Linked DNA regions of Homo sapiens: region 1 is linked to region 2. Evidence: fine-mapped expression QTL. A gene starts in region 2. The other region holds a variant in brackets. All regions are shown on one strand. Distances are from middle to middle. Region 1 has its middle 21 kb from the start of EZH2. Region 2 holds the start of EZH2 (enhancer of zeste 2 polycomb repressive complex 2 subunit).

Region 1 (12,371 bases), 22 kb after region 2:
ATGCTGGAGTGCAGTGATGTGATCATAACTCACTGCAGCCTGAAACTCCTGGGCTCAAGCGATCCTTCCACCTCAGCCTCCCAAATAGCTGGGACTACAGGGGTGATATGACACCCAAAATGCTGAAACAGAGATGCGTAACTTATTTTATTTTACAGCATGTATATTTCATGGTCTCAGTTTGGTTGTGGTTTCATGTGCCAAATTGCACTAGAACAACAAAAGCATGGGCACTGTTTTCACATAGGGGATACAAGAAGCAGTGTGTGTCCTGTTAAGCTTGTGGGTCCTGATCCTAAATGAAATGATCAAAATTCATCTTCTTTTTTTTTTTTTTTTTAAAGAAAGGTGAGGTCTTGCTATGTTGCCCAGGCTGGCCTCAAACTCCTGGGGTCAAGCAGTCCTCCTGCCTGGGCCTCCAAAGTGCTGGGTTTACAAGCATGAGCCACCCAGCCCACCCAAGATGAACTATGTTCAAATCCTGTTTGTTAAGTGTGATCTTTAGCGGGTTACTTAACCTAAGATTCAATTCATCTGTAAAACAGAAATAATATAAAACATAATAATACATAATTCCTACTTCACAGAGTTGCTGTGAAGATTAATATGAAATACTGCATGTGAAGAACATGGCTGTTATTTTGGCTCCTAATTGTTAAAAATATTGGTCATGGCCGAGCACAGTGGCTCACGCCTGTAATCCCAGCACTCTGGGAGGCCGATGCAGGCGGATCACCTGAGGTCAGGAGATGAAGACAATCCTGGCTAACATGGTGAAACCCCGTCTCTACTAAAAACACAAAAAATTAGCCAGGTGTGGTGGCAGGCACCTGTAGTCCCAGCTACTCAGGAGCCTGAGGCAGGATAATCACTTGAACCCGGGAGGCAGAGGTTGTAGTGAGCCGAGACTGCGCCACTGCACTCCAGCTTGGGTGACAGAGCGAGACTCCATCTCAAAAAAAAAAAAAATTGGTCATTAACATATGGCCGGGCGCAGTGGCTCACGCCTGTAATCCCAGCGCTTTGGGAGGCTGAGGCGAGTGGATCACCTTAGGTCAGGAGTTCGAGACCAGCCTGACCAACATGGAAAAACCCCATCTCTGCTAAAAATACAAAATTAGCCAGGCACAGTGGTGCATGCCTGTAATCCCAGCTACTCGGGAGGTTGAGGCAGGAGAATTGCTTGAACCTGGGAGTCCGAGGTTACGGTGAGCCGATATCGCACCATTGCACTCCAGCCTGGGCAACAAGAGCAAAAAACTCCACCAAAAAAATGTATATATGTATTATGGATTTTGTAAAAACAATATCTGTACAATTCTGGCATAACAGAAAGGCAAAACAATGACAAAACAATTTTCTTTATTACATAGAAATACTAGGCTCACTCTAGAAAGGGACATGAGTACAATAGTAGTGAATGGTGATCTTTCTAAAAGCATTGTCAAGGTAATTCTTCTAAGCATTGCCTAAACATGTTCAGTATGAAGAATTTTATCTTCTGTGGCAGGAGTACCAGGCATCTCTCTTTCCTAAGATAGTTTCTTTAACTCTTAGCTCTGTCAGTTTCTAAAAACTGAGCTGGAACAATGTCAGAAGCTGGCCTTTGTTACCAGTGTTTCTTCCCTCACACTGCATTCTAGTTTTCACCTGTTGTCCCTTGGATCTTCCTGTGAACATGGCCATGTAACTTTGCAGTCCCTCCCGCCCGGCAGTGAGGTCTATTTCCTCACACTATGAATGCTGGGCTTGGCCCTATGACTCAGTTTAGCCAATGGCATGTCAGGGGACGTGATACAAGCAAAGGCTTGAAATGCATCTGCACATTTGGCTTGTCCTCTTACCCTCTCACAGCCCTGCCATTGCCATAAGAAAAACAAGTCCCAGCCAGCCTGCTGGTCCAAGAAGAGTGAGACAGGCCTGGAACCAACCTTCAGTGTGGAGTCATGCCCAGTCAAGCCCAGGCTAGACCAACTGACCTGCAGTCACAAGTGATAACACCTTTGCTGTTTAAACTAAGTTTTGGAGGGGTTTGTTACACAGCAGTACTAACTGATAAATATCCAACCCTGTCACCTTTGGTATACTGTAGATAAAGCTGTTTTTAAAAAAAAGTAATAATCTGGCTGGCCACAGTCACTCATGTCTGTAATCCCAGCACATTGGGAGGCTGAGGCAGGAGGATCATTTGAGGTCAGGAGTTTGAGACCAGCCTAGGCAACATAGCAAGACCGCAGTCTCTAAAAAATGAAAGTAATAATCCACAAATATATACATAAATGCATATGAAGTAGTATGTAAATTTATAGAAATACATATAATTAAATTTATTGGAGGAGAATATGCTAACTTAATTCAGTGGCTTTTTCCTTCCTTGATATTTTTAAATGGTTTATCTTTGAATACAATAGAAGTTGATTTTAAAATTCCAAGTGGTTTACTTGTCCAAATAGGCTTTTTTTCTTTTTTTTCTTTTGTTTTTCTCATAGAGACAGGGTCTCATTATGTTGCCCAGGCTGGTCTCAAACTCCTGGCCTAAAACGATCCTCCCACCTCAGCCTCCCAAACTGCTGGGATTACAGATGTGAGCCTCCATGCCCAGCCAGCTTTTTTACAACACATAAAAAATATAATGCAAACAGCTGGGCATAGGTTTAAATTTTTTGGCTGAGCACAGTGGCTCACACCTGTAATCCCAGCACTTTGGGAGGCCGAGGTGGGCAGATCACAAGGTCAGGAGCTTGAGACCACCCTGGCTAACACGATGAAACCCCGTCTCTACTAAAAATACAAAAAATTAGCCGGGCATGGTGGTGGGCGCCTGTAGTCCCAGCTACTCGGGAGGCTGAGGCAGGAGAATGGCATGAACCCTGGAGGTGGAGCTTGCAGTGAGCCGAGGTCATGCCACCGCACTCCAGCCTGGGCAACAGAGCGAGACTCTGTCTCAAAAAACATATATATAGAGAGCAAACAAAAACATTTATTTATTTATTTATTTTTATTTTTTGAAACAGAGTCTTGCCCTGTTGCCCAGGCAGGAGTGCAATGGCACGATCTCGGCTCGCTGCAACCTCTGCCTCCCAGGTTCAAGCGATTCTCCTGACTTAGCCTCCCAAGTAGCTGGGACTATAGGCGTGCACTGCTACGCCTGGCTAATTTTCGTATTTTTGGTAGAGATGGGGTTCCACCATGTTGGCCAGGCTGGACTAGAACTCCTGACCTCAAGTGATCCACCCACCTTCACCCCCAAAAGTGCTGGGATTACAGGTGTGAGCCACCGTGCCCGGCCAAAAAATTTAAACCTTAATAAATGAGTTGCTCTTTTATACCTGTATGCAGGCAATATGATGAAATAGTACAAGAATTTTATCAAGTTATAAATGCTTGTTTGGTTACTAACCTGAGTGATAAAATAATCTGTACCAGAAACCCCTATGACACGAGTTTACCTATGTAACAAACCTGCACCTATACCCCTGAATCTAAAATTAAAGTTTAAAAAAAAAGAAAAAGAAAAAGAAATCTTTGGAGCAGAAAAGCATAGAAACAATGTCCATGTCAGTTGGAAGTAGAGGTGTAGTCTCTGCCTATATAACTATTTCCATTCATTGAGTATTACAGACCAAAAATAAGATAAAATCCACTCTTTTTTATATCAGGAGGAATACCATTTAAACGCAGGTGATCACTCTATTCACTCCTGATTTTTCCCTTGCACTTCCTGCAGGCGTAGTTAGAAGACTAGCAAAATAATATAGTTCGCAGAATTCATTGAAAAACATCATCTAGTGGTACTTTTTAACAGAATCAATTTATTGTATTTTAAGCCATAAAAGATTATTCACTGTATCCACTGAGGCCCACATTTGACTGCAAGTAGCAGAAACCCTCTACTAACTATAGCTTAAGTCATAAGGATGGTTTACTCTTTACTTAACAAGAAACTCAGAGAAAGTCCATATCAGGATTGGTCTGCCAGCTTCATAAAAACTCATTAGACTCAGGCTCTTTCTGTCTTCTCATTTTGCATATTGGCTTATCATCCTCATGCGTGTACTCATGGTTGCAAGGTGGCTGCTGTAGTTCCAAGTATCACATGCAAATTCAAGGCAGAAAGAAGGGGAAGGGACTGAGTCAGCCCCTACTTTATCATGTATCAAGAAAGCAGAAGCTCTCCAGAAGCCTCCCTGAAGACTTCTCTGCATCTTATTGGCAAGAAAGGCAACACATGTCCATGGAACACATGTCCTAGCTTAAAGGGCAGCTGGGATATTTACAAGGAAAGAGAATGAGCTTGTCATGATTTCAAATATCAAGAATGATCTCCTCAGGCTGGGCACACTGTTGTCCTGAGCAAAGTCAGGGTTCTGTTAGCAGAAAGAAGAGAGGAAATGACTCTAAGGTACCCAAGCATCATCTGCACGTTGCCTTAGCTGCCCTTAAACACATTGCCTTCTCAATCTAATGGAAGCAGGAAAACAGAAAACACAGAATTGTGATTTTACCTTTTTGAGGGAAGTGGGGATACCTGAGCTTCTTTGAGCATCTGAGTAAGCAACAGACACTAATTCACCCCCAAATTTTCCAACAAGGAATTTTGGGGGATGTCCAGAGCTCCTAAAACCCATCTGTGGGTGACTACATGAAGAAGGCCGACCTAAAGTCAGCCCAGTCTTTCAACCTGGTCTTCCATAGTATACAGCTCCTGGGTTGTTCTGCTTTTTCCAGTTGGTTGTGTTGTGAGTCTGTTGGTTGCTGATTCTGTAAGAGGTAGTATAATTCCTTCTCTCTGTAACTGAGCTTGTAACTGGAAAAAATGACAATGCCTAAAATCGTATAACAAGAAAAATGGAATTTTCACTATTTCATGGTTCATTATGTTGAAAATAAAAAGACCAAAAGTTAAAAACTGAGTTCCTATTTCAAAGCACTATCAAACATCTAATTGCAAAATATTATATACAGGAAACTGCAGGGGTCTAATCCCTGCTGACAAAGAATTTATAATCTGAGACAATCTAGTGATAATCTCACTTGGGTTATCAAATGGGGGCAGGGCAGCAGATAATATTAAGTTATTAAATAAGGTAAGATTACTTTTAGAAGTATAAACTATTTTGAAAATGCAAAGTTCTGAAATAAGTCCAAACTCCATATTCTGACAAGTAAAATCAGAGATTGCCAATGTCTCTAATTATATCTGCTAAACAGATAGTGTACATACTTTGATTATGAAATAATGACATTGATTCTCAGGCGTGATTTGCAGAAATCAGTATCCTTACTTTGCAAACACACTTGGTAATGTGAGACAAATTTCTGGCAGCAGAATGATGATTCAAAATTCATTCTTAGGCAGAGAGAAAAGTATATAAAGGGAGTAGAACAAAAATTGTGGGAAATATGTGAAAATAATTTTTTTTTTGACTGGAGTAGGATAATTTGCTTTTCCATTTTATTTCCTTGTCAGTCCCAGTAAAGCAGTATCACGTGCAACTTTGTGCTTTTTTAAATATCTAAGCTTCTGGTTCAACTCTTCACATTGCTTCTCTAACAACAGACATTCTCCATGGCTCGTTTTCTTGCTTTCTGCTGAATTCTGTACTTTGTACTATTAATAGTTTTGATTTTGTGAAGACCTGAATCATTCTGTAAGCAGCTATGAAATATCTCCCGTGGCTTTCTGGCCTGGGGCAGATGGGAAAATTAACTCCAAGGAGAAAAGAGCACCCTAAACTGCCTTTTCTCAGGCAGACAGCCATTGATGTGATTTCAGTGAAAACCATCAAGCTGAAACATCAATATTCCTCCACCCTTGGTCCACAGAGCAGGCAGGGCTCATTAGCAAGCAGAGCCTCAGCTGGGTTCCATCTTGGGC[C/G]GGTCTGGGCTAAGGTTTCAACCCGGAGGCTGTGAGATCCTGTTTCCTCCACGTCTGAGCCCAGTTACCTAACCAGGTGCTTGTTGGAGGCTGCCTGCAATTGCAGCCCTTACTTTGGCCTCTTATTTCCTTCTGGCTCAGCCTCTAGCTCGACTCCAGCTGGCCTAGGTTGCTCCTGAGCACCAGTGGAATTGAGATAAATCACCCCAACCTTTACAGGCCTTCTTCGTAGGATGGAGAAAGGTCTGGGTCCCTGGGAAAACCGTAAAAATTGCCCTCTAAACATAATCAAAACTACAGTAACTTCACATCTATTTTTTCTTTTTGTATTTCATCCATGCTTTCTTTTTTCCCTTTTGTGACACAAATTTTTAGCAGAAACCTGACATTCTAGTAATCTAAAAGCTATTTTACTGTGGTATTAAAGACGTCCTATATAACAGAACTTGTGGTTCGTTTCATGAAAATTTATTTCCATACATACGAACTAACAATTTCAAAAACTCCAATGCATATAAAATTAATAAACCTGAACACTGCTTCACAGAACAACCATGGTGAAATCTACAAATTGAAATCGCTGTTGCAGCCCAGATATATGCACATTTTAAAGCCAGATGGCTTTCCTAACCAAATAAATGTCAGCCCTATAGTGAGAGGTCTTAGTACAAGGGTGGGAGGCACTGTAAGGACAAGTTCAGGCGTTGTTTAGGGTATCTGGGTTAAAACAACAGCAGAAGGTCAAGAGTTAGGTCCGTGGAACTATCCTGACGGGACAGACCAGAGTGGGCAAGATTCAGAGTAACCAAAGACGGCTCAGGTAGGAGAGAACCCTGGAGAAGAGACAGAGGGGGAACCAGCAACTACTGAGCACTGGATATATGCCAAGTGTTTACTGCTTGCTCTACATATATCAATTCTTTTTTTTTTAATTCATTTATTTTTTTTGAGATGGCATCTCACTCTGTTGCCAAGGCTGGAGTGCAGTGGCGCAATCTCTGCTCACTACAACCTCCGCCTCCCAGGTTCAAGCAATTCTCGGGCCTCAGCCTCCTGAGTAGCTGGGACTACAGGCATGTGCCACCACGCCTGGCTACTTTTTATATTTTTAGTAAAGACAGGGTTTCACCATGTTGGCCATACTGGTCTCAAACTCCTGACCTCAGGTGATCCGGCCACCTCAGCCTCCCAAAGTGCTGGGATCACAGGCCTGAGCCACCGCACCTGGCCTCAGTTCATTTAATCTCATGTTTAGCATGTGAGGGGGGTAGGTCTCCCCTTTTACACGTGGAGAAACTGGGTTGTATGGGAATTCCTTGGTCAGAAGCCTCCAGCCTATGAGTCCTCCGATGGTATAGATCCTATTCTCCATTTTATTTCCATCGTTCTGCACTGTGCCTTATACATAGAAGGCACTTAATAAACACTTGTTGCATAAGCAACCCTCCCTGACTGTCTTCCTGGTGAAACCTACCTGTTGGAGCAGATGGTACTGGACTTTAACAAGACTTAAGTAATTAAGGGTGCTCTGTTTCCTTTGAGTCTGGGGATCATTCATAAGCCTCCAGTGCCCTGATACAAATCAGGACCACATGCTCTGGACACATCTGAGTCTGAGCCGGTGTATTCACATCACGAAGGGGCTCCTAAGGTCAGGATCCTGGTTCGGCAGTCCAGGCTCTACAGTTGGTATCTCAATCTCACTTCATCCATTTTCTCTAAGCAAGGGAAGCACATGACATCTAGTATCTTCTCTCCATCTGACTTATTGCCCTCCCCACTCCTGGTGTCTTAGCAATCATATTGTGTCCTGTCTCACCAGGAACGTTTGATAAGATCATTCAGAACAAATGCAGATCACCAAAGGGATTATAGTTCTATTAATTTTGATTTTACATCTACGTTAGTCAAATTGATTCCTTCTGGGCTGAGATCTATGTGCATTTCACAATCGCTGTAACAGAAAACAGATCATCTTTTCATTTTCTGCTGTGACTTATTCAATTATACCTCTTTGCATCTAGAAAAAGCAAAAAGATTGTTTCTCAAAACAACTGAGCAGCTGAGGTGACTATCCGCGATTATGTGGGGTGATCACCAGTTTCCTTACAGCTGATGCCATCAAGTTTTTGGTGCTCCCTACCCACTTCCAACACCAACACACACACACACACACACACCCCACCTCCACCACCCCGTTTCAGTCCTTAAAGGGTCCTATAGCATATATTAAACTAATTTTTGTTTTACTTTTCAATTTTGAAAAAGTTATAGACTGAGAAAAAAAGTTGGCAAAATAGTACAAAGAATTCCCATATATCCTTCACCCAGATTCCCCATTGTTAACATTTTACCACACTGGCTTTAGCATTCTTTCTTTCTCACCCTCTGTTTCTCTCTCTTTTTTTTTTTTTTCCTTTTTTTTTTTGAGACAGTCTCGCTCTGTCACCCAGGCTGGAGTACAATGGCACCATCTTGGCTCACTGCAACCTCAGCCTCCCGGGTTCAAATGAGTCTCCTGCCTCAGCCTCCTGAGTAGCTGGGACTATAGGCGTGCACCACCATGCCTGGCTAAGTTTTGTATTTTTAGTAGAGAAGGGATTTTGCCATATTGATCAGGCTGGTCTTGAACTCCTGACCTCAAGCCATCCACCTGCCTCGGCCTCCCAAAGTGCTGGGATTACAGGCATAAGCCACCACGCCCAGCCATGTGTGTGTATTTGTAATATGCATGAATACACAGTATCAAAACACAACTAGTCAGTTCAGCTAAAGGATAAACCAGTATTTCACGTTTCTACACACTAGATGTATCGCACCACAAAGCATAAGGCATCACACTAAATGCCAAGCCATACAAGAATTGTCTTGTAGACAGCACATGGGGTGAGAATGATTTGCTCCCTCCCCAGACCTTGGAAATAAGAGGAAACAGATGTCTCCAAAGAGGTAGGCTGGGAAAATCAGGTGGATCAAAACAAGCCTCCCGCAAAGGACTCACTCAGCTTTATATGCACATATCCGGCAGCCTGCCCGGGGTCCACACCTGTGGGCTGCGGGTCCTCCTGTGTTCCCTGCTCTACTTGGTGACACTGCCACAATTTCCTGGACTCACCCTCACATTTTCTTTCATCTCCAGCTTCCAGTCAGTTACCCAATTCTGCTCATCTTAGGACCTATTTCTCAAATCCCGGATTGGGGGCAGGGCTAGAGACCACTCCGGAGATGACAGAGCAGTCCCAGTGAGAGACAGAATGAGGGCCTTTTATTTGGAAGGGCTTATTCAAAAGACACCCAAAGGTGAGAATTTAAGGAGACACCATCCAGGAAGCTACCCTGCTAAGGTCTTATGTGTGTGTGGTGTGGTTGTTTGCTGTTACACTGTATCTTGTGAGATTAGTGCTAGCTAGTGTAATAGCTTGGTGTGTAAGGAATTTGGGAAGTGGAATTCTAAATGGATAGCCTGCCACCACCATGAAAGCCCCTTACAGGAACCACCCAAGTCCCCTGGCAGTTTGTCAGAGTGAAGGAAAAGACCCCAGAAAGCGGCACTCGGGAACAGCCAGCAGAACTCACCGGCCAACCCCTAGGAATCTACCTACACTCATCTCCAAATTGCCAAGCAATATCTACACATTTTGTTGCATTAAAGGTGAGCGTTAAGCACAGATGTGTGGGATAATCATTGTTTGTAGACACTCTGAATAAGATCAAGCCTGAACCAGAAAGGAGTTGTGATGAGGATGAGAAGAGAGAAATTCTAAACTCTAAAGACGAAACGGGCTGAACTCAGTGACTGAATGGGAGAAGGAGCAGGATGAGCAGAGGGAGGAAACCTGTCCTTGTTGAGCCTCTGCTATTCGCCAGGTGCTTGTCGGATACTTTCCATATTTAACAGTATTGATGCGAGACAGCCATCATTCCTCCCATTCTGTGGATGAAATATTGACTTTCAGAGAGGTGAAGTGATTTTCCCAGGATCACACAGCTAACAAGGAATAGGACTGCCTGATAACTTGTATCCTTATTCCTTTTTTTCTTTTTAAGTAGTACAATTTAGTCTTCGAATGAATTTTTAAACAAAAGACCAACATGAAAACAGATCAGCTCTGGTCGAAAAGCGGTGAGGGAAAAGGCAAAACTAAGGAGACGGTGAAAAGATCAGCAGGTGCCAGGATCTGGGAGGAGGCAGGGACAGAGCCCAGAGGATTTTTGAGGCAGTGAAACTACTATTATGACTCAACCAAGAGTATTCCCTAATTAACCTATGGCCTGTGGGTGATAATGACATGTGATGTATCTTCATCAATCGTAACAAACGCACCGCTCTGATGCAAGATGTTGATGGTGTAGGAGGCTGGGGGAGTGGGGCAAAGGGCAGGGAGTATATGGGAAGCTTCCACTTTCTACTGAATTTTGCTGTGAACCTAAAAAGGCTCTAAAAACATAAAGTCTGTTTAAAAAAAAATTAAATAAGGGGTCCAAAGTTTCCCCCCCTTCTTAACTCACTCCTCCCTTTGGGTGGTCCCTGATGCCACCAAAGGTCTTCAAGGGCTTGAACATGTACAATATGAAAGCCACTGCCCCGGCTGGGCACTGTGGCTCACACCTGTAATCCCAGCACTTTGGGAGGCCGAGGCAGGCGGATCACCTGAGGTCAGGAGTTCAAGGCCAGCCTGGCCAACATGGTGAAACCCCGTCTCTACTAAAAATACAAAATTTAGCCGGGCGGGGTGGCAGGCACCTGTAATCCCAGCTACTCAGGAGGCTAAGGCAGGAGAATTGCATGAACCTGGAAGGTGGAGGTTGCAGTGAGCCGAAATCATGCCACTGCACTCCAGCCTGGGTGACAGAGTGAGACTCCAGCTCAAAAATAACAACAACAACAAAAAAAAGCCACAGCCTCACAATCCCCCACCCCCACCCCACAAGGAGAGCAAGAACCCAAAAGCAGCCCTCTCCAAATGGTTGCTGCACCATTCTCTCTTCTAAGCACCTGTTTCTGGCACCCTTCTAAGCAGCCTTTCTTTCTTCTAAACATCCTCCCCCAAACAGGTAGCAGGAATCTGTCTTCCAGAGGGTGGTCCTTGCAGGTGCTAGCACCACCTGAGACCTTCCAGCTCATAAAAAGCTCACCTACCCTGTCAGAGGAAAGGGAACCAGATAACCAAGATGGTCCAGCCTCACTGCTGCAGCCTCCAGGGGCCTCCTCAGGCCCACACAGTGGGAAAAAGAATATCTAAAGACAGAGACATGACACAAATGGCTCCAAGACTCAGAGCTCCCACACCTCCTACAGTTCAGAAAGGAGAAAGAAAGAGGGGGAATACAGAAGTTTTCACAGCTCCATCTCTCAAGACTGCAGGCATCAACAGCCAACACAATGCTGACCCCCAGAAAGCATTTAACAAAGGCATGCTGACTAAGGAATTGCTAGGTGCTTCAGGGAGAATCTTTCCCCATCAGCTAGGGGATCACTGAACATAGTATAACAGTTGTAACAAATGATTCCAAGCAGGGAGAGGAAGTATCTCTTCCAGTCTCCTGAGCTGTGATTCAGGGGTGATGAAGATTCTGGGGGGAAAACTGGTTTGAAGAAGCCCTCCTTGTCATATAGAACCCTTGGGGGCTGCAGTAGCTCTTCTGGGTCCCAGTATATCAGTAACTGTCCTGAGGAATCATGTTTTCTACAACCTAATCTTGTTAATCAATATGAACAGAGGGGCCGGTCATGGTGGCTCAGGCTTGTAATCCCAGCACTTTGGGAGGCAGAGGCGGGTGAGGAGTTTAAGACCAGCCTGGCCAACATGGTGAAATCCCATCTCTGCTAAAAATACAAAAATTAGCAGGGCATGGTGGCATGCACCTATAGTCCCAGCTACTCAGGAGGCTGAGGCAGGAGAGTCGCTTGAGCTTGGGAGGCGGAGCTTGCAGTGAGCCTAGATCGTGCCACTGCACTCCAGCCTGGGTGACAGAGTGAGACTCCATCTCAAAAAAAAAAAAAAAAAAAAAAAAAAAAAAAGAACAGAGGGAAGCAATGGCTCCGAATATCTCAAATAACTTTCTAAATCCACTAATATTTTGGCTTAACAGTGAATTACATGATTTCTAGTAGGTTCACATTCACTTATCCTATTAAACATTGTTGAGCTGGATTGTATGTTCCAATCATGGCTCAGCACTTTCTCCCAACTCACATGCTTTTCTGCATTCACCTTGCTACACCTCCTTAATGGGTTTGACTAATAGAAGGTAGCAGAACAGATGCCACACCCATTCCCAGCCAGGGCCTTACTGGCACAGCAGTCTCTACTTCCTGCCTCTTTGGAGTGACACTGCCATGCTTTGATAATTCCACACCACAGAGAGGCCATGAGCTGGTCCACACCCTAGCTGAGCCCCCAGCCAGTGACGGCATCAACTGCAGCCATGTGAGTGCATCATCTTGGATGCAGCCCTGTTGAGCCTTCAGGTGATGCCAGCTCCAGCCACT
Region 2 (12,371 bases):
CTGGAACCCAAGAAACTGTCTCCAAAGACCACATCCTTAGAACTCTACTCTCCTCCCCTCTCAAATGCATACTATTACCACTCTGGCTGAGAAAGAAATCCTCAAAGTTAACCTTTAGTCTGTCTAGGGTTTCACACTGTACCTTCCATCAAACTACAATTACCTACTTTTAAATGTAACTTTCTGAATGATTCAAATAAACTCATTCTTCTCGGAGCTGACATATCTTTAATCACCCAGAAAGCCAGCAGATAACACAGAACAGATAATATGGAGTAGATAATATGTAGTGAAACAGAACTAAGTTTGGATCCCGAATGCAAATTCCCAGCTGAATAATCCTGGGCAAATTCTTAACTCCTCCCCTGTAGACAGTTTTCTTCAGTTTCCTCATCTGTAAAGGTTTTCGGAGTGTGTTATTAAATTTTGTATTCTGGTAAGATATATAGATATAGAGAGAGATATATATAGATACAGATACATATCGTGTAAAATTTACCATTTTAACCATTTTTAAGTGTACAATTCTGTGGCATTAAATATATTCAAAATATTGTTCAACCATCACTATTATCCATCTCCAGAATTTTTTCACCATTCCAAACAGAAACTCTGTATTCATTAAACTCCCCATTCACCTCTCCCCTCACAGCCCTGGTAACCTCTATTCTACTTTCTGTCTCCATAGAGTTGCCTCTTCTAACTACCTCATATAAATGAGATCATACAATTTTGTATTTTTGTACAAAAGGTTGTATCTGGCTTATTTCACTAAGCATAATATTCTCCAGCTCCATCCATGTATCAGAATTTCACTCCTTTTATGTCTGAATTATTTTGAAATCTTTTTACTTTTATTTTGAAATTTCACTCCTTTTACGTCTTTATTTCACTCCTTTTATGTTTTCATTGGTTTATATACCACATTTTGTTAATTCGCCTGTTGGCAGACACAAGGTGGTTCTTACAAATATTAAAAACAAAAGCTGGGTGCAGTGGGTCACACCTATAATCCCAGCACTTTGGGAGGCTGAGGTAGGTGGATCTCTTGAGTTCAGGAGTTCAAGACCAGCCTGGGCAACATGGCAAAACCCTGTCTCTACAAAAAATACAAAAATTAGCCAGGCGTGGTGGCATGCACTTGTAGTCCCAGCTACTTGGGAGGCTGAGATGGAAGGATCGCTTGAGCCCAGGAGGCAGAGGTTGCAGTGAACTGAGATCACGCATCTGCACTCCAGCCTGGGTGACAACAAGACCCTGTCTCCAAAAAAAAATTTTTAATTTAAAAATGTTTAAAAAGTATCCAGGCCAGGCGTGCGCAGTAGCTCACGCCTGTAATCCCAGCACTTTGGGAGGCCGAGGCAGGCGGATCATCTGAGGTCAGCAGTTCGAGACTAGCTTGGCCAACGTGGTGAAACCCCATCTCAACTAAAAATACAAAAATTAGCCAGGTGTGGTGGTGCGTTCCCGTAATCCCAGCTACTCGGGAGGCTGAGGTAGGAGAATCGCTTGAACCCAGGAGGCAGAGGTTGCAGTGAGCCGAGATCACGCCACTGCACTCCAGCCTGGGCAACAAGTGTGAGACTCCATATCAAAAAACAAAAACAAAAACAAAAAACAAAAACAAAAACAACACAGCAGGGTGTGGTGGCTCACACCTATAATCCCACCACTTTGGGAGGACGAGGCAGGTCAATCACTTGAGGTCAGGAGTTCCAGACCAGCCTGGCCAACACAGTGAAACCCAGTTTCTACTAAAATATAAAAATTATCGGAGGCTGGGCACAGTGACTGACGCCTGTAATCCTAGTACTTTGGGAGGCCAGGGCAGGTGGATCACCTGAGGTCGGGAGTTCGAGACCAGCCTGGCCAACATGGTGAAATCCCATCACTACTAAAAATACAAAAATTAGCCAGGCCTGGTGGTGCATGCCTGTAATCCCAACTACTTGAGAGGTGAGGCAGGAGAATCATTTGAACCCAGGAGGTGGAGGTTGCAGTGAGCCAAGATGGTGCCACTGCACTCCAGTCTAGGTGACAGAGTGACACTGCATCTCAAAAAAATAAATAATAAATAATAAATAAATAAATTAGCCGAGCGTGGTGGCGCACGCTTGTAGTCCCAGCTACTCAGGAGGCTGAGGCACAAGAATCACTTTCGAGACTCCGTCTCAAAAAAAAAAAGTATCTGGGTCAAACACAATGGCTCAGCCTGTCATCCCTGTACTTTAAGAGGCCAAGGCAGGAGGATTGCCTGGAGCCAGGAGTTTGAGATCAACGTGGGCAACAAAGCAGGATCCCATCTCTACAAAAAATTAAAAAATTAAATAAGTCACCACAATGGTGTGCACTGGTAATACCAGTTACTCAGGAGGCTGAGACAGGAGGATCCCTTGAGCCCAGGAGTTTAAGGATGCAGTGAGCTATGATCTTGTTCTGTCTTGCTATTGTTAATGGAAAACAAGACCAATTATTAAGAAACTGCTAACCACATAATCTAAACACAAATTTGTCATATTTTTATACCAAGTAGTGGAACAGTGGCAAGATATGGAATGGTGCAACTATCTTAGAAATTTACCAGCTGTAACTTTTGAGGTATCACTAAATTTGCTAATCTGTATTTAAATCATTTTAAAAGAATGATGAAAAGCATCCCAATAAATGATCCAATTACACTGTCGCTACATCCTTCAGTTTTAGCTCCAAAACCTACCTCAATTTACTCCAATAAAGAACTCATGAATTATAACAAAACAGCTTTTCAGTTAAAAGATCTACTACCCTCTCTCGCCCTTTCCCTTCCTTATATTTTTGCAAAGAGATCATCAATATCAACATTAAATCAAATTAAGCAAATACTATTACTAAATATCCAGATGATTCATCAAGTTCTCTCCAGTTGTCCGAGTGTAATAGTTGCATCTAAAGGATATCTAATGTTTAGTACTACAGATTATAACTAGGAAAAACTTGGAACTTGTTCACCTTGACAACTATTTTTCTTTGTAATCATTCCCTATTAAAGAGGGAGAAAAACACATTTCAAAGTTCCTCACATGAATACTAACATATCCTGTTCACTTTGCAAGTTCCTTTGTCAAATTATTTCCCTACATTTTTCATATTTCCTTAATTCATTCAACTATATTTAAAACCCCTATTCTCTAGCAAATACCAACGTAGGTACTAGGTATACAAAGAAAAAAATAAGACAGAGCCTCTACCAGGAGGCACTTTGACTGTAGGGAAGAGAGGGATGCATAAACAAGTGATTACAATACAATTGAGTCATGCTACAATAAAATATGATAAAACCCTGTGGGAACACAAGAGTGGGAATTCAGGGAAGACCTCCAGAAGGTAAAGTATGTATCATCTGACCATGAACCTTTCTCTGAATTTAATGAATTGCTGCTGTTCACTTATGCTCTCCCCCGAAGATTTCACCTACTCATATAGAATCTATCATGATTTACAGAAAATTTGTCATCTATACTGATATAAAGACTTCAAGGCTAATCCATAAATCATTGCTAATTAACCACAGAATACATTATATTGGAGGATTTGTCCTTGTTGGTTTTTAAAAAGCAGATCAACTTTCTCAATCACTGCTCATGTAAAGGGTAATACTGAAATAAATTCAGAATCCTTGAGCACACTACCTCAAAAGAAGGAAGGTATCCTGGGAAAATTCCAGTATGACTTGGAGAAATTTGCCTAAAATTTTTAAATGGCCAACATAAAGATATTCACTTAAATGTATTTGTGCAAGGCAAAGCTAGGTATCAAAGTATCAGAACTTTTTCTAACTACACTAGATCAACAAGTGTGTTTTAAGTCACTGCTACTTAAACTGACTAAATACATTCTCAATTGTACCAGAAAATAATTTAATATGAATTTTTAAACCAATTCCCCAAAGAGATGTTTTTCAAAATATCTCATGGCAAGTACAAAGAATAGTAATTATCAAATACAGAGAACACTCAAGGGCAAAGTTAGAAATTTTTATCCTAGGCTGGGCGTGGTGGCTCACGTCTGGATCAGCATTTTGGGAGGCGGAGGCGGGTACATCACTTCAGGTCAGGAGTTCGAGACCAGCCTGGCCAACATGGTGAAACCCTGTCTCTGCTAAAAATACAAAAATTAGCCGGGTGTCGTGGTGCGTGCCTGTAGTTCCAGCTACTCGGGAGGCTGAGGCAGGGGAATTCCTTAAACCCGGGAGGCAGAGATTGTAGTGAGCCCAGATCCAGCCACTGCACTCCAGCCTGGACGACAGAGCAAGGCTCTGTCTCAAAAAAAAAAAAACATATACACACACACACACGCGCGCGCACACACACACACACACACACACACACATATGTATCCTAAAATATCCGAATTTCTGCCAAAAATCTGCATAACTACCTTATCTCATAATGGACAAGATTATTAATAGGATTTTTTAAATACAGAATTAATAGTAACTAATATAAACGTTACTTTTTTGTTATAATGTCTCAACACTTAGACCAGCACCTGGAATGCCCGTACAGTGGTGTCAACACTCTCCAAAATATATGTAATAAATTTATATTGCATTTATTTGTCTCCATTTTTATGAAACCTTAAGTTAGCAGATGCACATTAGATCTTTATCATATAGGACAGTGCAACCAGAAGAACGCCTATGTTTTTCTAACTTGTTTTCTTGGAATATATTCACTTTCCACAAAAACGAGAATTTAAGATGCAGTGTTCCTGTTTCCGGGAAACCTTAAATATTACATCACCCAACACACCTCCGAAAAGAGAGAACAAGACGCTTTATATCTATGACTAGAATCCTACCTATTCCTAACTTTAGAGACCATGAATAGAAAATTAAAATATATCTTAAATACTTGTTTTCCTGCAAATAAAATTACAAATAAACAAGTTAGGATTACACACTTGTACAGTATTCCTAAACATGAATTAGTTGCTAATGCTTATGAAGAGTAATAGAAAATAAACTCCAAAACCCCTAAAAGTATAAACTACATTCAATTGTGACAGCATTCGTGTTTTTCAAAGGTTTATTAAATGCTGTTTTATGATGACATCAAAACGCCACAAAATTAAACTAATAATAACTTGCTTGAACCCTAAAAAGCAAGCCTTTAAGTAAATAGCAAAGACACATTTTTATTTCCAAATGAATTTAAATGTTACAGATCCTGTGTGATAAAGGAAGTTTAACTGTGGACAGCACACGTTAAATTTCTTAGGCAACAAACATTTCTCCATGCAGTCTTTTCTGAATCACCAAAGCTATTGTTCACAGAAAACGAGACCAATTAATAAGAAACTGCTAACCGTATAATCTAAACACACATTTGTCATAGCCATTCTATTTTGATCACCTACTTCTACCACCTCATCCTCATTCAACCCGTCGGGATTTGGGGAATAATCTGGCTGAATGACAGTTGATTTCGTTAGCACCTGTCGCCATTCTCAGATGTATCACACAAGTTGGCCAAAACAGCTTGTAATGTTTAAGGATTACGATTCTTTAGAAAGTGGCAACTCACTAGGCGTTCACCAAGTTTTCCAAAAGATCGTGCTTCTCGATTCCTCCCGCTTTCAAAAAGTAACCCTGTGGCACAGATTTTTGGGGGGAACGGAAGGGGATGTACACAATGAAGTGGGAATTCAACAGGACGCCCTCCAGAAACACAATCAATAGAGAGCAGAGCAGCTCGACTCTTCCCTCAAACTTAGCATAAAGCCAGACCAGGCGGCGAGGGCAGCCCGCGACCGCCGGAGCTCAGGGGGATTTCGGGGTGCGTCGTGGGGAAACGTCAGAGGCGAAGCTACTCCGAGTTCCCCGCCGCGAACGTCGTCCCGCGAGCGCCGCGGCCCCAGCCCGGGGTCGGCGCGCCCGGGACCGGGGGCGTGCGCGAGGCGAGGGCCGAGCCCTGCCCACCCCGGCAGCGGCCCGCGCCTCCCCACGCCCCTCTCCCGCCCGCCGGCGGGCCCGGGTGTCATGCCCCTTCCCCTCGCGCCGAGCCCTCCGGAGACACAGTCCGTCCTTTGTCTGAGTGCGGACTCGGCGGCTGGGTCCCACCAACTTGTGTCTGTCCCGTCCCACCCGGGCGCTCCCGCCGCGGCCGCGCCACACAAAGGAGACTTGAGGCTCGAGCTGCCACCCTGGACCGGGCACCGGAACGCCCCGACCCCGGCCCCGGCGCCCCGGCCAGGACAAGCACCGGGAAAGGAGCCCCCCACACGCCCCCCGCCCCGCAGCTCCAGGGGTGTGCGCTGCCTCACTCGCAGGGTCCCGCGGGCCAGCCCGAAGCTCACAGCTCCTTCCGGGGAGGGGGGCTCTCCCCTCACCCTCCACCCCCCGCACGCCTACAAACGCGGCGCCCCGGTGAGCCCCGCTCGGCGATACCCGGGACCGGCACAGCAGTGGCGGGGAGGTCCTGGCGCCGCCGCCGCCGCCCGGTTCGCACTCCCGGAGCCCCGCCGGCCGGGCCGCCCGCAGCGGCGCGTTACCTTCGTCCCGCGCGCCGACTCGCGTTGTTCCCGCGCGTCGCCCCCGCGCGCCGCCGCCGCCGCCGCCGGGGCTCCACTGCCTTCTGAGTCCCACCGGGTGTCGGACGCGACCGGACCGAGCGCCAAACGCGGCAGCCCAATCGCCATCGCTTTTATTTGGCCCCCCCAGCCCAATCAAGCGCCGCCCCGATTGGCGGGACGCGAGGCGGGCGCCCGTCCAATCACAGGGCCCGCCGGGCTCGGAGGCGCCGAGCCAGCCCCACGCAGAGTGCGCTCAGGGCTCGTGGGCGGGCGGGCACTGGCAGCGCGTGCGCGCGCGGGCGGCGGCGGGGTTCGCTGTAAGGGACGCCACTGGCCGTGTGGAAGCGCCGCCGCCGTCTCTTTGTTCTTTCGCTGAACACACGGCGCCTCTCAGGAAGGCGGTGTGCAGGCACGCGGGGACCGGGAGACATCGCGGGGGCCCGGAGCCCGCCGCGGACGGGAGGCGGGGAGGATAGGTGGCGGGAACCGGCCGAAGGGCGGGACGAAGCGCCGGCGGCTCTTGGCGGGAACCGGCGCCGCAGAGTTCCCGGGCGGGGGAGGGGCGGGGCGGGTGCTGGAAGCCAAGTTTGAACCAGTTCAAAACTCGGGGGTGGTAACGGTTTTAACCGCCGCGCTCGTTTCCCCGCGCGCGGAGCCGAGGCCCGGGCTGGCCGCTCCTAGTGGTGCCCGGGGAGGGGAGGGCGCGGGCCCCGGAGGTCGGCTCAGCTGTGGCGCCGCGTTTGCCGGGAGACGCTCGCCCGGCCCGCGCGCTGCCGCCGGACCCGTTACTACTTTTTTTTTTTTCTCCTGAGACGGAGTTTCGCTCTGGTTGTCCAGGCTGGAGTGCAATGGCGCGATCTCGACTCACCGCAACCTCCGCCTTCCGGGTTCAAGCGATTCTCATGCCTCAGCCTCCCGAGTAGCTGGATTACAGGCATGCGCCACCACGCCCGGCTAATTTTCTATTTTTAGTAGAGACGGGTCTTGGTCAGGCTGGTCTCGAACTCCCGACTTCTGGTGATCCGCCCGCCTCGGCCTCCCAAAGTGCTGGGATTACAGGCGTGAGCCACCGCCGCCGACCCGGGCCCTGTTTGATTATGTCTGCTGCTGCCTTGGCCGTTTTTTCCCCCACCGCTGGACTTTGGCTGGCCGAGCTTGCAGTGCTTATCGCCCTAGAAACCTGTGAAAGGGCGACATTGCTGCCATTTCAGACCCTTCCACTGTTCGTAGTTCTAAGCACGTGTCAGTGTTAAAAATCCTTTATCAAGATGAGCACTGTTCACTTGCCGCCTCTGCAAAGTGTGAGGATATTTGCAAGGCGCGGTGGCTCACGCCTGTAATCCCAGCACTTTGGGAGGCCGAGGCGGGCGGATCATAAGGTCAGGAGATCGAGACCATCCTGGCTAATAACGGTGAAACCCCGTCTCTACTAAAAATACAAAAAATTAGCCGGGCGTGGTGGCGGGCGCCTGTAGTCCCAGCTACTCGGGAGGCTGAGGCAGGAGAATGGCGTGAACCCGGGAGGCGGAGCTTGCAGTGAGCCGAGATCACGCCACTGCACTCCAGCCTGGGCGACAGAGCGAGACTCCATCTCAAAAAAAAAAAAAAAATTGATCTTGGTTATGGGGGGTCAAGCTACCTCAACCCAGAGGAATTAGAGGGATTCTGCTTAGGATACAGTCTCTCCTATTGCTTCATGTGGCAATGCAGTTAAGAGTATTCCGAATTTATTTTTACTAGGATGTATCTATGGGGTAAAATACCATTGTCATGTAAACTGAGATTCCATATTGAGAGTTCATACTGGAAACTGAAAAAAGGTCACCTATGAACTGTTGGGGTAAAAATCTGAAGAAATATTTTTAATGAATTTAATAACTAGCCAGAATTTTTTTTTTTTTTTTTTTTTTAAGAAACGGAGTCTCACACTGTCGCCCAGGCTGGAGTGCAGTGGCACCATCTCAGCTCACTGCAAGCCCCGCCTCCCGGGTTCACACCATTCTCCTGCCTCAGCCTCCCGAGTAGCTGGGGACCACAGGTGCCTGCCACCACACCCGACTAATTTTTTGTGTTTTTAGTAGAGACGGGGTTTCACCGTGTTAGCCAGGATGGTCTCGATCTCCTGACTTTGTGATCCGCCCGTCTCGGCCTCCCAAAGTGCTGGGATTACAGGCGTGAGCCACTGCGCTGGGCCAGAATTTTTCATCAGATGATTTAGCCCATAATTTTCCCGCCTTTCCTAAATCACCATCCCATTCCTCACATATATTCTGAATCACTCCAATGTTGGAAAGTATATATAAAGGGAAGCTAAAAGATAAGGAGAAACAAGCAATCATGTGCCCAGATAAAAGCAAAATTGTCTTGTGAATCAGTGATAACACTGCAAAAAGTAAATAGGTTATGCAGCTGAGATGTGACTGTAAAATAACGTAACGAATTATAGCTGCCATTACTTCCAGTCACGAATACATTCATTCTCCAAGATAAAATGCATCTGTCTAGGCCACCAATTTACAATTTTTTAAAACCAGCAATTTAAACCTCAGAAATTAACTACTTATCCCTAAGTTGCTTATCAAATTACTGAACTTATCAGTCCTGTAATACTAAATATTAAAACAAGGCATTTTTAAGAGGAAGATCAACGAAATTAGAGACTACCATAAAGCAAATCAAAGCAGTATATAACTCTGCAACATGGTGTGAAATGTCATGTAAATTGCTAGACGTTTAGAATCAAGGAATGGATGGATCAAGATATTCCAGGCCAGACTTAGTGGTTCACACCTGTAACCCCAGTACTTTCAGAAGTCGAGGTGGGAAGCTCCGAGACCAGCCTGGGCAACATAGCAAGACCCTATCTCTACAAGAAATTTAAAAAATAACTGAGTGTGGTGGCACAGAAGTACCTATGGTCCCACCTGCCCCTGAGGCTGAGGTGAGGGGTCTGCTTGAGCTCAGGATCCCAAGGTTACCGTGAGCTATGATCACATCACTGTGCTCCAGCCTGAGCAACAGAGTGAGACCCTATCTCTTTAAAAAAAAAAAAAAGTGATTGGACAAAATATAATTATTGGCACCAAGTGAATGTTAGGAAAAAAAAAAAACACGTACAAAGAACTTTATAGAGCAGCCATTCCCACTGGGAAGAGTGTGTAGGTTGGACTCTAACCATTAAAGAGCTAGGTGGGATGATACTAAATATATATAACAGACATTTAATATAAATATGATATGAAGGCTAAGGTGAAAAGGGATGCCAGTGGATCACAGTATTTTCTTGATTCAATGATGACATTGTCCATTTAAGCAAGGTAGTTTAGGCCACAGTAATGGCAGAAAAAGGGGATAATTTGAAAATATTCCAGAAGGACTTCATTGTATGTGGGGTTCATGATGTCTCGCGACTCCTTTCCGTATATGACAAATACAGCAAAGTTAGGAGGGGGAAGAAGTATTTTGCTTTTGCTACCAAAAGAAAAACTGTCTGAAGATGTCTAACCCAGGAAAGCAAGAAAATATACAGGCCTATTTAACAGACCTCTATGACTATTTCAATGGGAAAAAAAATTTTTAATGTGTGTAATGAATAGTAAACATATAAGCAAGTGTGTGTGTGAATGCCAGTTACTCAAGGGGCCTAGATGAAGCAGAAAGCCAGGCTAAACACAAAGGTGGATATGGAGGTTGAGGGTCACCAAGCTTTTTCATTTCTGTAAAGATTGTTCTGTGTGAACAACAAAGATTTGGTATTAAAGTTAAAAGATGAAACGAAAAACAGTTAAGCCCCAAAGTTGTAACCCCAGGGCCTAGCGTGCCCGGCACATAGCTGATTCTCAGGGTTGTCCTGGGGGAACTGGAGAAGATGGAGTGCAAAGTTAAGGCTGTCAGCCAGCAAACTTCCCTTTCCATCCCTTCACTTCTCAGAACCTCCCTTTCAACCCCAAAAATGGGATTTACTTCCCACATATTATACAGCACTCATTTATGGAGTGCTTACTCTGTGAATGATGATTATACCGAACATGAGGTGGTGATAAAAATAAGGCATGGGAAGAGGGGAGTATTGGGTGCAATTGCTGTAATTTTAAAACAGCTTGGGGCTGGATGTGGTGGTTCACGCCTGTAATCCCAGCACTTTGGGGACCGAGATGGGAGGATTACTTGAGTTCACAAGTTCTAGATCAGCCTGAGCAACATAGCGAAACCTCATCTCTTCCAAAAATACCAAACTTAGCCGGTCATGGTGCCTATAGTCCCAGCTACTCTGGAGGCTGAGGTGGGAGGATCGCTTGAGGCTGGGAGGCGGAGGTTGCAGTGAGATGGGACCACAGCACTCCAGCCTGGGAATAAAATAATTTTTTAAAAGCCACTTGGTTAAGGAAGCCCTCATTTTGAAGGTGACATATGAAGAAAAACTTGAAGGAGCTGAGGGAGCATTTACTGAGAGAAGACTGTTCTAGGCAGAGAGAAGGGCCAGTCAGTGCCTGGGCCTGAGGCAGAAGCGTGGCTGATGTGCTCTGGCACAGGAAGGGGAAGAAAAGTGGGAAATGATGTTGAAGAATGGAGGCGGCACAAGCAGATTTTTCAGCTCCTTGTGGACCATAGTTAGGTCTTTATCTTTTATAAAATGAGAGGATTTTGAGTGGAAAGGCGATTTGATCATTTAAACAAGATCATTCTAGCTCCTGTGTTGAAAGGATCCTGAAGCGGAGCCGGGGCCAAATCAGAGAGGACAGTGATGAGTCCGTTGTAATAAGCCAGGCAAGAAATGATTGTGGCTCAGACCAAAGTGGTAGCAGTGAGCTGGTGGGAAGTGGAGTCTGGATATATTTTGAAGGTATAAGCAACAGAATTTCCTGACAGATTGGATATAGGATACAAGAAAGATTGCATGTAAGAAGTATCAGTTCTCAATACAAGAAGCCTGAGAAGGGATGAGCTCTCATGAAGAGCCAGAGTGGCATTATACTGCAGCCTGGAACACACCCCAGGCTGGGGTCAGGAGATGTGTGGCATGTCGAGAAACCTTCATAAAGATAACATAATTTTTGGTTGTGATTGAAATTAACCTGATCCTTTTCGGAACCAGCTTGAAAGAGTCACCTCTAGAAAACCCAAGGAAGGTGTGGTAGCCAGCCTCTAAAATGCTCCTTTTTGGCTTTGTTTTTATTTTTATTTTTTTGTTTTTTTGAGAGAGAGTCTCGCTCTGTTGGCCAGGCTGGAGTACGGTGGCACAATCTTGGCTCACTGCACCCTCCATCTCCTGGGCTCAAGCGGTTCTGCCTCAGCCTCCCGAGTAGCGGGGATTACAGGTGCGCGCCACCATGCTTGGCTAATTTTTGTACTTTTAGTAGAGATGGGGTTTCACCATGTTGGCCAGGCTGGTCTCGAACTCCTGACCTCAGGTGATCTGCCCGCCTCGGCCTCCCAAAGTGCTGGGATTACAGGCGTGAACCAACATACCTGGCCAATGCTCCCGTATTATTAATACCACCTCCTGGTATTCACTGCCTTGTGTAATCTTCTCCCTTGTTGTGGGCTAGACCTATTGACTTGCTTCTAATAGGATATGGCCACAAAAAGAATGGGATGTTATCCCCAAAATCACATAATGAGGAGATCGTGACCTCCCAGCTCCTGTATCCCTTCCTCTGGCTGTAACAAGCTGCTATTTCAGCTTTATCTCATAGCTCCACCACCCTAAGTTCCAGCCATATTGTATTACTCACTTTCCCAAACAGAGTTTCAGCTAAACTGATCAAGATGTTACCATTTTAAGACGTTTAAGAAAGAAATTTGATCAAACAAAATAA

What was found.
Region 1: its variant is fine-mapped to the expression of EZH2 in nasal epithelium (TOPMed, PIP above 0.99).

The regions. Positions count from the first base shown.
Region 1 is chr7:148,899,572-148,911,942 of GRCh38, forward strand. No RefSeq gene overlaps it. Among named protein-coding and RNA genes, the nearest start is that of EZH2, 21 kb to the left of the region's middle. The variant C/G (reference allele first, on the strand shown) is at 5,879.
Region 2 is chr7:148,877,633-148,890,003 of GRCh38, forward strand. EZH2 (enhancer of zeste 2 polycomb repressive complex 2 subunit) reads right to left here and starts at 6,659. Exons shown (of 20, transcript NM_004456.5): 1 at 6,532-6,659. LOC124901767 (a long non-coding RNA gene) reads left to right here and starts at 7,557. Exons shown (of 2, transcript XR_007060579.1): 1 at 7,557-7,851; 2 at 8,725-10,164. RefSeq lists silencers at 5,823-6,412, 6,573-6,942, 7,063-7,292 and an enhancer at 5,913-6,604.